2 separate regions of the Homo sapiens genome follow, and region 2 is linked to region 1. Evidence: fine-mapped expression QTL. Tissue or cell type: transverse colon. Region 1 holds a variant in brackets; the other region holds the start of a gene. All regions are shown on one strand. Distances are from middle to middle.

Region 1 (5,383 bases):
GTGTGATTGTGTGATTCAGTATTGCTGGGTGGTGCCCAAATGCTCCAGTTCTAATGTATTCCCAGGTGTTGCTGATGCTGGTGATTGGGTACCACATTTTGAGAACCATGGGGCATTGGCAATCAACAAATGCAATGCTTGTGACTTGACGTGATAAAAGTTCATTTATTGGGCAGGCAAAGTCCTCTGCAGGCCTGGAAACCCTCCGAGACAATTACTTGCATGGGGTAACCCAGTAATACTGTGGGATGCAACTTCTAGGGCATGGCTGCCTCCTTCCTAGAGGCAGCAGGGGGAGAAAACACTGGAAGAGGTCACCCCAACAATTCCATCGTACCTTGGCCTAGGAGTGACCTCCTCAGTCTCACAACCCTTTGGCTAGAACTAGTCATGTGACCTCACAGGAGGTGGAGCAGTGTCGTCAATGTTATCATCCCCCTGCACCTGCAAGGAAGGAGGCCCAGATGTGTGTAGGTGCTGGATGTCTCTTCCCCAAAACATATAACTCTGGATTTGGAAAACAAAACTGGATATAACAGAAAAGAAAAGGAGGGGAGAAGGAAAGTTGAAGAAATTGGTGAAATCAGAATAGGACAGTGAAAGGCATAAAGATTTTCTTCTGAAACGCTAAGATCGGTTGATATTTGTCTAATACAGCTTTAAATAGAGTATCACTTTGGGCCAAAGAAAATTGATATAAACATACATAAAGTGGAACTAAGATTGACTTCTTCCTAGACATCTCTGCCTCTGTCCACAAAATGGAAACTTCCATCAAGGAGTACTGGAGGACAGTTCAGTATTTCTTCTTATTTGCTCCTCCCTATGAAAGGAAGAGTGACTTCTCTGCTGCATGATATTGGGGGTAAATAGTTATTGCACATTTGCTCAAACCCCAGCAAAGTGCACCCCATTTTAAGCCAAATTTACAAACTTACAAAGATGATCCACCAATAGTTTTCTCTATTTACTTTATTCTTGCTCTGTCACCCAGGCTAGAATGCAGTGGTGTGATTATAGCTCACTGCAGCCTCCAACTTCTGGACTCAAGTGATCCTCCCACCTTAGCTTCCCAGGTAGCTGGGATACAGGTGCACGCCACCACACCCAGGCTAGTTTTTCTAAATATTGGAGTTCCCAAAGAGTATTCAAACTGATGTGATATTTTAAAAGACATTTTGTAAGCATCTTTTAGGAATATCAGTAAGTGGAAGAAAAACACATAGTTATCAGTGGATATTATGCCAGAGAGGCATGAGAAATATAATTTTATTTTGCTAGGTATCAGCAGAGTGCCCTCTTATAATTTGTGTGAAATGGAAACAAAGGTAACATCGTGTTTTCAATTCACACATATATACAAGTAATGAGAGGTCCAGAAGAAATGTGGCTTCAGCTCTGCTGCTACTGTGCCTCCCTTCTCCTGCCCCACTCAGCCCACAAAATAGGCTGGACACTCAAAAAACGTTGCGTTTATCTACCTTTTAGAGAGGGTGAATAGCAGAGAACTGGAGGTGGGAATGGTAAGGAACTCCCAGCAGGGTAGTGGAGGGAATGGGCTGACGCATCTAAGGCTGATGCCAGGTCTGCTCCCTATCTGGGTGGCCTCAGCAAATGACGTCCAGCACATCCAGGGGCAGGCTCAAGGGAGAACAGCCCCCAAAGCTAAGATCCTGCCAAGCTAAATACAGTAGTTCTAATGAAATGTGAGAGGCTATAATCCCATTTGGGAAATTCCTAAAAAGTCATGAGGCAGGGGATTGGTTTATGTTATTATCATGACCTGAGAGTCATGGCTCAGAGCCAAATGTTCAGGATTGAATTCAACAGCATTTAAATGTCTTTAGAGCAGGATGGAAATATGTTAGCAATGCCTGCAGAGTGCCAAGTAAACGCAAAAGCCAATGAGATCATAAAGGAAGTTGTTAGCTAACCTAGGTGGAGTCGCCAACTTCCTTCTACTCTAATAATTAAAAATAAAAATAATACTTGGGAGGTAACTGGAATAAAGGTTCTAAAATCAAAACCCTCTGAAGGGTGAAAACTGGGAGCCTCCTGTTCCCATAGTAACCACAGCACTCAGGGCACTGTCTCCCAGCGCTGGAGTACTGTCTTATGACCAGAGATCCTAAGCAACCTCTGCTCATCTGAGTTGTCCACCATATTGTGGGCATGAGTCCTTGACAATAGTAAATAGCA[C/T]CTCTGTTCCCTTATTGGGTAAATGATTTTCCAACTCTGGGAATGTGTAGAATTCATTATGGAAATAATGCAATAATTCAAATCCATAATATTGATACTTTCATGTTAAGTTTAGGACTAATCTTGTGTATGCTCCTTAAGTGATTTGAATCTTTAAAAAGCTTATGATTCCAATTTGAAATGTGAAATTGATTTTACGTTTGTGATTTGAAGTTGAAAGGTATAAGAATATTTAACTTAGCTCATGAAAAGTATTAGACTAGATTTACTATAAGTTTAATGTATTAGATTTACAAGAGATGCTTAAATATATGAGAATGTTTTGTCTTAATTGGTTATAATCTTGTCATATCAATGATTTGAAGTGCTAAAATAGAAAATTAAATATGATAAATTACACAAGAAGTTTAGAATGTTTAAAAGATTTTAATAAACAAAGCCTATAACTAAGACTGATGCTTTAAGGGAGTTTGGCTTATTCAACTTGAGTTAATCAAACATTAATTAAAGCCCCCCTTCCCCAAAGAGATTTGTTTTATTTATTTGTTTACTAGTTTTATAAATAGGATAATAAAATGTGTGTATGAGGTCAGAATGCTTTTGACAGAAGTAATACAAACAAAAAAACCTCACTATAACCCAAACAAATAAGGGATTATTTTTCCCTCCTAGTGAGAAGTCTGGAGGTAGATATTAGATGCTGGTCTATTGCTTCAATGAAGTTAGTGCCAAAGTCTCAGTGGTTCTCTTGGTCTTTCTTCATAACCACCGGATGCTGTTATAGCTTCACCAATCACAACAAGCACAGTGCTTGGAACATAATAGGTGCTCAATAAATATTCAGTACATATTGAATGTGTGCAGAAATATATCTCAATCTAGTCATAAAATTTTAGAATGCAAGATCTGAAAGGGACATGGGAATCTGTGTTTTTAACGTGTTCCAGGTGATTCTGCTGACCAGGTGAGTATGGTAAATGTGGCAAGTATTCTCAAGTGAGCTCATCAGTCCCAGGGCTGTTAGCACCTTCCATCTGCCAGGCCCTCCCTGGTCTAGACCTTCAGCCTTGACCTTGCCCTGAAACGCCAAACTCTTACTCCCAGCTGCTTTCTCTGTCCCTCCACTTAGATGTTAGTAGGCACCACAACCTTTTAATGCTCAAAATACTACTTTTGAGTCCTTTCCACCCCTTACTTGGCCCCTCAATTCATACTTTTTGGGATGGAGCCTCAAATCCAGAAATCTTCTGTATTAGTCCATTCTCACACTGCTAATAAAGAATACCTGAGACTGAGTAATTTATAAAGGAAGGAGGTTTAATTGATTCACAGTTCAGCATGGCTGGGGAGGCCTCAGGAAACTTACAATCATGGCAGAAAGAAAAGCAAACATGCCCTTCTTCACATGGTGACAGGAAGCAGAAGAATGACAACTGAGTGAATGGGGAAACCCCTTATAAAGCCATCAGATCTCATGAGAACTCACTCATTCTCATGAGAATAACATGGGGGAAACTGCCCCCATTATTCAATTATCCCCCATCAGTTCTCTCCCATGACATGTGGGGATTATGGGAACTACAATGCAAGATGAGATTTGGGTGAAGACATAGCCAAACCATATCATCATCTTAAATTTCTGTGATTCTTTTATTCTGCACATCCAAATCCATGAGCAAGTTATACTGACTTTATCTCTGAATATTGACCATGGGAGGGGAACAAGGAGAAGCAGTGTGAACAGGAAAAGCATGCTGCCTGCTGCTGTGAATAATAACATATCTTGCTCTGACCCAGTAGTCTTGTGTCTTCTGTCAGCATCCACACTACTAAGTCAGGCTACCTTGCTATCTTGCGAGGAGGGTAAAATCTTAGGTCCTTTACAATTCACGACCCTTGGCATTAGATGTTCTCTCCACCTGCAATGCTCCTCCCCTAGATACTGTTATGGCTGCTCCCTTCATGTCAGTCATGATTCAGCTCAACCCAGTACCTCTGCTGAGAAACTTTCCTTGACCACCCAATCTCCAGTACCCCCAACCAAACCCCAGTCACTCTCAATCACTTCAGATGTTTATTTTCTTCAGAGCACTTATCATTATTTAATAAATTTTAAAATTTTTATAGGGCAACATTTAAAATATAGACACAAAATCCTAAGAATATTATAATGAAAACTATGTAACCACAATGTAGGTTAAGATACAAAACATTATCAATACAGTTAATACCGCCTATGTATTACTCCCCAGTTCCATCCTCTTTCCTCCCTCCACAGAAGAAAGCACTAATCTAATTTGGTCTTATTAATGCCCATGCATGTAAAAAATACTCTTGCCACTAAATAGTATCTAATATTTGTCCATTTTAACTCTACACAGATGGCATTAAACTTTACATATTTTTCTGCAACATTCTTCAGTTATGCTTATGAGATAGTCCATGTTGAAATGTGCAGCTCTAGGTCATTCATTTTTACTGCTCTATACCATTGTACGAACATATCGCACATTTTTCATTTTCTTATGAGTTGTCATTTAAATTCTTTTACATTCATTCTTTGTCCTGTGGGAATGTTTAAGAATTTCTCTAGGGTATATACCTAAGAGTAGACTTACTGGGTCAAAGAGAAGTCAAATTTCAGCTTTTCTAGATCTTGCCAAATTGTTCTTCAAAGGTTTTCCCCCTCCCCCTGATTTTTAAAAACTCATTTACTGAGTAACTCCCATAATGCAATCATAAATTCTAAGATGATTTATCAATCATGCTCCCCTCTCTATTCCTGGTGCCGGTAGCTGCTATGTGAATATTTGTTGAATGGATGAAGAAATGTAGGCTAAGAGGGGTGCTGTGACTTGTCTAGAGTCACAAAACTATCTTAGTGACCAAGCAGGATTTGAGCCCAGGCTGCTGACTCCCTAAGAGGAAGTGGTTATTGTAAAGACAATTCCCCAAGCTGTGATTGCAAAGGTCCTGTCTCCAGGAGAAAGTCTTACACAATTTCACACTGAATAACTGGGACCCTTCACACAGTGCTTGAGCTGGTGTGGGCCAGACATGCTCCCAGTGCAGATGGGAGTTGCAGTTCTGGAAGATTCTTCAGCAGATGCAGATTTGAACCTCAGAGCGCAGGAATTGAGTCTCTGTGGTGATGGAGTTGAAGTAGCAGGAGGACCCCAGCAGG
Region 2 (5,383 bases), 36 kb before region 1:
CCCCAAATGCAATGCCTTTTGCATGGATCCCAAAAAATATATTTTGAATGAATGAGTGAATGAATGAATGAAGGAATGCATGGTCATTTTGCTTTTCTTCTCTATCTTGAACCAAGCAATTCAGAGCAAGAATCTTTTCTTTCCCATTGCAAGTCACCAAACATGATGGAAAGCTGCCTTCTGGCATGGTTGTCCTTATGTTTCAGCTCCTCCGGGGCTCTCAGTGGCTTCAGAATCCCCTACAGACTCATTCTGCTGGGCACATGGTCTGAAACCCAAGAGACTCAGGCAATACTCAATTAGCCAGCCAGCTGCTGCATGCCACAGCTGTTAGCATTCCCTTCTGAGATGGGGGTGCCTCCCAGACTTCACCCACTAGTGCACTAAAACCAATTCCCACCACCCCATTTTTCCTGGGCTTAATCCTGTTCCTGACACTGATATGAATTGTGCTTTTGTAGTTACAGGCACCGAGGATCTTTCTGATTCTTCGAAGGTAAGGAGACACATGGGCTGAAACCGAGGCAGGCCTGGGACCTCCTAGGAGCAGAGGCAGTTGCCACCCATGGCCCTCACCTTGTCCTTCCCCTGAGCTGTGAGGCATTGCTGCCTTGCAGGCCTTGCTTCTCTCTGCACATTTGTCTTGCTCTTCTCTTGCTATGGAGTGGTTTCTTTATTCTGTGTTTTTAGTGGGATGTAAAGAGAAGCTGGGCCCCAACACAGGCTCTGCCATTTTCAGCTGCCTGCGTGGGGTTGGATCACATGGACTGGACATGTCCCCTCTGACACCCTTTCAGCAGGCACAGGGAGGGCACTTTCCTGTACAAAAGCTGTCGGCATGGCAGGCAGCACCACCAAATTCAATGGTCTGTGGAGGCCAGTGCTTCCATAATAAACTTTGTTTATTATCTTCTACAGAGTTCTCTGGAGTTAGAGAACCAATATGATATACATCTTAAAAAACAACTGTCTATCACAAAAAGGAGTATTACAATATATGATACAATAAAACCATCAAAATGAGTATTGAAATAAATAACACATATTCAATTTTTTAAATAGATAATATATTTACAACAGCTCAAAATACTTAAATTATGGAATAGTATTCAGTAGAAATTCTCTCACCCTTGTCCCCCATCTATCCAGTTTCCACACTCCCTCCAAAACAAGTAACCACTGTTTTTTTCACTGTTTATTTTGAAATAATATAGACTCACAAGAAATTGCAAAATTAATAAAGAGAATTCCTGATATAACCGCTCCTTAGAGTATGCTTTTCCAGGAAATACATATATAAGTTTGTATAAATGTATCATATTTTCCACTCTGTTTTATTCAAATGGCATCATGTTATACATACGTTTGCACCTTGATGCTAAAGACTGAATATGTCTTGGCAAAATTCATGTGTTGGAGCCCTAAGCCCCAGTACAATGGTATTTGGAGGTTGGGCCTTTGGGAGGTGAACAGGTGATGAGAGTGGAGCCCTCATTAATGAGATTAGTGGCCTTATAAGAAAAAAGATGATAGAGATGATCTGTTTCCACCATCCACTGTGTGAGGTTACAGCAAGAAGGCACCTGTTGGCAAACCAGGAGGGGAGCCCTCACCAGGAGCTGATTTGCCAGCACCTTAATTATGGACTTCTCAACCTCCAGAACTATGATAAATAAATGATAAATAAATTTCTTTCTTTCTTTCTTTCTTTCTTTCTTTCTTTCTTTCTTTCTTTCTTTCTTTTCTTTTCTTTTTCTTCTTCTTCTTCTTTCTTTCTTTTTTTTTTTTTAGAGGAACTTTCACTCTTGTCGCCCAGGCTGGAGTGCAATGGCACAATTTCGGCTCACTGCAACCTCCACCTCCTGGGTGGAGCTATTTTCCTGCCTCAGCCTCCTGAGTAGCTGTGTTTGCAGGCATGTACCACCAGGCCCAACTAATTTTTGTATTTTTAGTAGAGATGGGGTTTCATCATGTTGGCCAGGCTGGTCTCGAACTCCTGACCTCAAGTGATCTGCCCCTCTCAGCCTCCCAAAGTGCCGGGATTATAGGCATGAGCCACCATACCTGGCTGAGAAATAAATTTATATTGTTTAAGCCACCCGGTCCATAGTATTTTTGTTATTTCAGCCATAACTGACTAAGGCACTTTCTAAAACAGACAGACAAACTAACACATAAAAAGCCCTACTGAAGTAATTACATAATCAAGTTGTCACTTTAATTTTTTGTGTCACTTTTCCTGGATCAAAGTTTTTCTCTGATGCAAAACATGATATTCTCTTTACTCCATATATTGGCTCAGGTATCATAAAAAAAAAATCAAAACCCTAGGGCTGTTTTCACAAATATGCCATTTAAAATGCATGGTGCCAAACCTCTTTCCTGAACATTTTCTTCCAGCAGATCTGAGTTGGTGTGTGGAAATCTATTTAAAAAAAACAAAAACAAAAACAAGTTCTTCAGGTGATCTAGCTAGATCTAGCACATGCAAGTTCTTACTCAGATTCTGGCAATTGTTGTCTAAGAATATATCGACAGAGTACATACTTTTAAAAAGTTAATGGACTGGTGTATAACCAAAGCCACAACACCCCACACATGTGACTGTGATCTTTGCTCCTTTGCAAAGTCCTCACAGAGTTGAAGAGTTCTGCACTTTGTTCCTTCCCTGGCACACCTGTGTCTGCATTCCTTCTATCTCCCGGCATTCTCCACTCCTGTCTCTGTGTGTTTAAAAACCGGTGTGGGAAGTGTGCACGCCTGTGACGTCAGACTCCAGACCATGTATTTCCTGACTCCCATCTTGGTAGCCATTCTCTGCATTTTGGTTGTGTGGATCTTTAAAAATGCCGACAGAAGCATGGAGAAAAAGAAGGGGGAGCCTAGAACCAGGGCCGAAGCTCGCCCCTGGGTGGATGAAGACTTAAAAGACAGCAGTGACCTGCACCAAGCAGAAGAAGGTAAAGACACCAGCTATGCTGCTTAGCTTCGCTGTCGTGTTGTGTTGATGATGAGTGTGAGTCAATGGCAGGGCTTATGGAGAGGAAGAAACACACACAGGCCAGCTTCAACATCAACCTCTATTGTGCTAATGAATCAGTGCTTGGCACAGACAGGTCATCTCTCTCCAGTGATGAGCTTGTCACCTGCTGGGACCAACCCTTTTTTATTTTTGATGCCCAGTGAAAAAGCTGTTGAGAGGCTGAAGTTTTCCCTGGCTACAATTCTGTTCTGGTTGTTAAAATCTTTCTGCAGGAATTCATCCCAGGCTGGCAGTGGGCAGGGACTAAGAGGCCAGGTTTTGATCAGGAACTTTGAAATCTACCAAGTGGCATCACCTAGGAGGCTGCTACCTTTCCCTGTGCCAGGCCCTGGAAGTGAAAGCCTGGGATGGCCTCTGTCCTCAACAAACTGAATGTCCAGTTCAGCTGCCAAGATGATACACTAGAATCAGAGAGAGTAACAAAGAGACAGACCCGGTGGAACTGATTCTAAGGTGTTTAGAGTAGGCCTGGGAGTTTGACGGTGCAGTCAGGGAAAGGACAAACCAGGCTGGGAGGATGAATAGGGTACAAATAGCAAGTGCTGGGAGGCCTGTCAGGCAACAAGGAGCCAAAGGAGCAGAAGCACCTGGAGGCCTGGGGCAGGGGTAAGAGAGGAAGTGGAGAATTGAGGGTGGAGGGAGAGGGTAAGAATGGAAGTAGAGAATTGAGGGCGGGAAGGTTATGGCCACCTTGAGAAGAAGAGGTGATGAAGGAGGCAGGTAGGAAGGGAGAGAGCGTGGAGGAAGCTTGAGCCATCTGTGTTTGAGAAGCTTTGTCTGGGATGGGTTCGATTTGGAAGAGGCTCTGTGATCTTCAGCTGGGCTAATGATGCCCCCATCCCCAAACAGAGGCCACCTGGACATGTGAGTGTGTGTGAGTGTATGTGTGTGAGAGTGTGTGTTTATGAATGTGCATGTGTGTGTGCGCGTGCGTGTGTGTGTGTGCATGAGAGTGGATGTGTGTGCGCGTGCATGTGAGTGTTCATTAATGTGCATGTGTGAGTGTGTGTGCATGAGTGTGTGTGCACGAGTGGGTGAGTGTGCGTGTGAGTGTGCACGTGTGTGCATGAGTGTGTGTGAGCATGCATGAGTTTGTGTGTGCATGCATGAATGTGTGTGTGCGTGCGCATGAGTGTGTTTGTGAGAGAGTGTGTGCATGAGTGTGTGTCCTAATCTCAGGACCGGGGCGCAGGGTGTCCAGCTGGCTCTCAGTGCTAACAGCCTGTAGTGCTGACTGCACCGTACAGGAGTCTAGCCTCTCAGCAGGGCTGCCTCTTGCTCTCCTACATTGAAACCTCTTCCACTCAGAACGTCAATTCTACCCAGCGGAGAAGCACTTCCCTTAATCCAGGGAACATCTGCTGTGAAGCTGGGTAATGGTTTGTGCTGGTAAGGATGGCCTGGATGGTGGGGGCAGGTGGGAATGCAGTGGAAGGCGTGGATCAGAGTAAAGTTAATGGAAGAGCAACAGGGTTTGCTAGTAAATTGGATATTGGGAAAAGGAGGAGAGAGGGAGAGTTGGAGACTGGAAGCTATCATAAGTGGGTGAGGGAATGAGGATCCAGCTTAAAGGGGAAGATGTTGAGTTCCATCGAGGACATGTTTGATTTCAGACGACAGTGACACACCTGAGCAGAAAAGGGAGACAGCAGTCTATGTTAGGGGCCCAGGCCACAGATACTGACTGGAGAGTCACCAGTATGGGGAAGATACTTGGAACCTGGAGAAATAATGAATCCACAAAGTGGGCATTGCTAGAGAGAAGGCTGAGGATAGAACTTGAGGGACACATGCGGTTAAGAGGAACTGTGGAAGAAAAATGTACTAGAGAAAGGGAGGAGCTGTGGGAAAGGGGGCTCTGGGATCATAACAGTAACAAGCCCTTATATATTAATAGCTCTTAATGTATGCAATCACAGCCACATATTATGTGTAGTAAATCATTTCATCTTCATGACAGTACAATGAGGTAGGCACTATTAGAATCCCCATATTACAGATAAGGAAATTGAGGCCCCAATAGGGTAAGCTCAGGAAGGTGATTGCAGAGATAGGACCCAAGCCAGCTGTTTGCTGGGCTGCCTCTCCCCTGGGAGAATGACCTAGAATGGAGGAGGCAGGAGATAGCCAGCAGGGACCAACATTCTCTGAGAGACCAGAAAGAGTGTGCATCAAGGAAAGGCCACTGGATTTGAAGACCCAAGAGGTTTGAGGACACAGGAGAGCTCGGGCAGGCTGTTGAGGGTCAGGTCCTGGGGCTGGGCCTGGAGGCTGGGAACATAGAGCAGAACTGGAGGGCCTTTCTCTGGCTCTCTGCCTGATCACTTACTTTTGCAAAAT

Which allele goes with the higher level. Alleles are on the strand shown, and positions count from the first base shown. SD is a standard deviation of normalised expression in the study named.
As copies of T replace C in region 1, the expression in transverse colon of the gene that starts at base 2,763 in region 2 goes down (large effect, 0.89 SD a copy in CEDAR).

What was found.
Region 2: it holds the start of IYD, and the variant in region 1 is fine-mapped to the expression of IYD in transverse colon (CEDAR, PIP 0.95). The same link has a PIP of 0.9 or more in ileum and rectum.

What each region holds. Positions count from the first base shown.
Region 1 is chr6:150,401,979-150,407,361 of GRCh38, forward strand. IYD (iodotyrosine deiodinase) reads left to right here. Exons shown (of 5, transcript NM_203395.3): 5 at 1-3,991. Among named protein-coding and RNA genes, the nearest start is that of IYD, 36 kb to the left of the region's middle. RefSeq lists a silencer at 1,635-1,929. The variant C/T (reference allele first, on the strand shown) is at 2,200.
Region 2 is chr6:150,366,250-150,371,632 of GRCh38, forward strand. It overlaps IYD (iodotyrosine deiodinase), which reads left to right and starts at 2,763. Exons shown (of 5, transcript NM_203395.3): 1 at 2,763-2,960. The coding sequence starts at 2,783.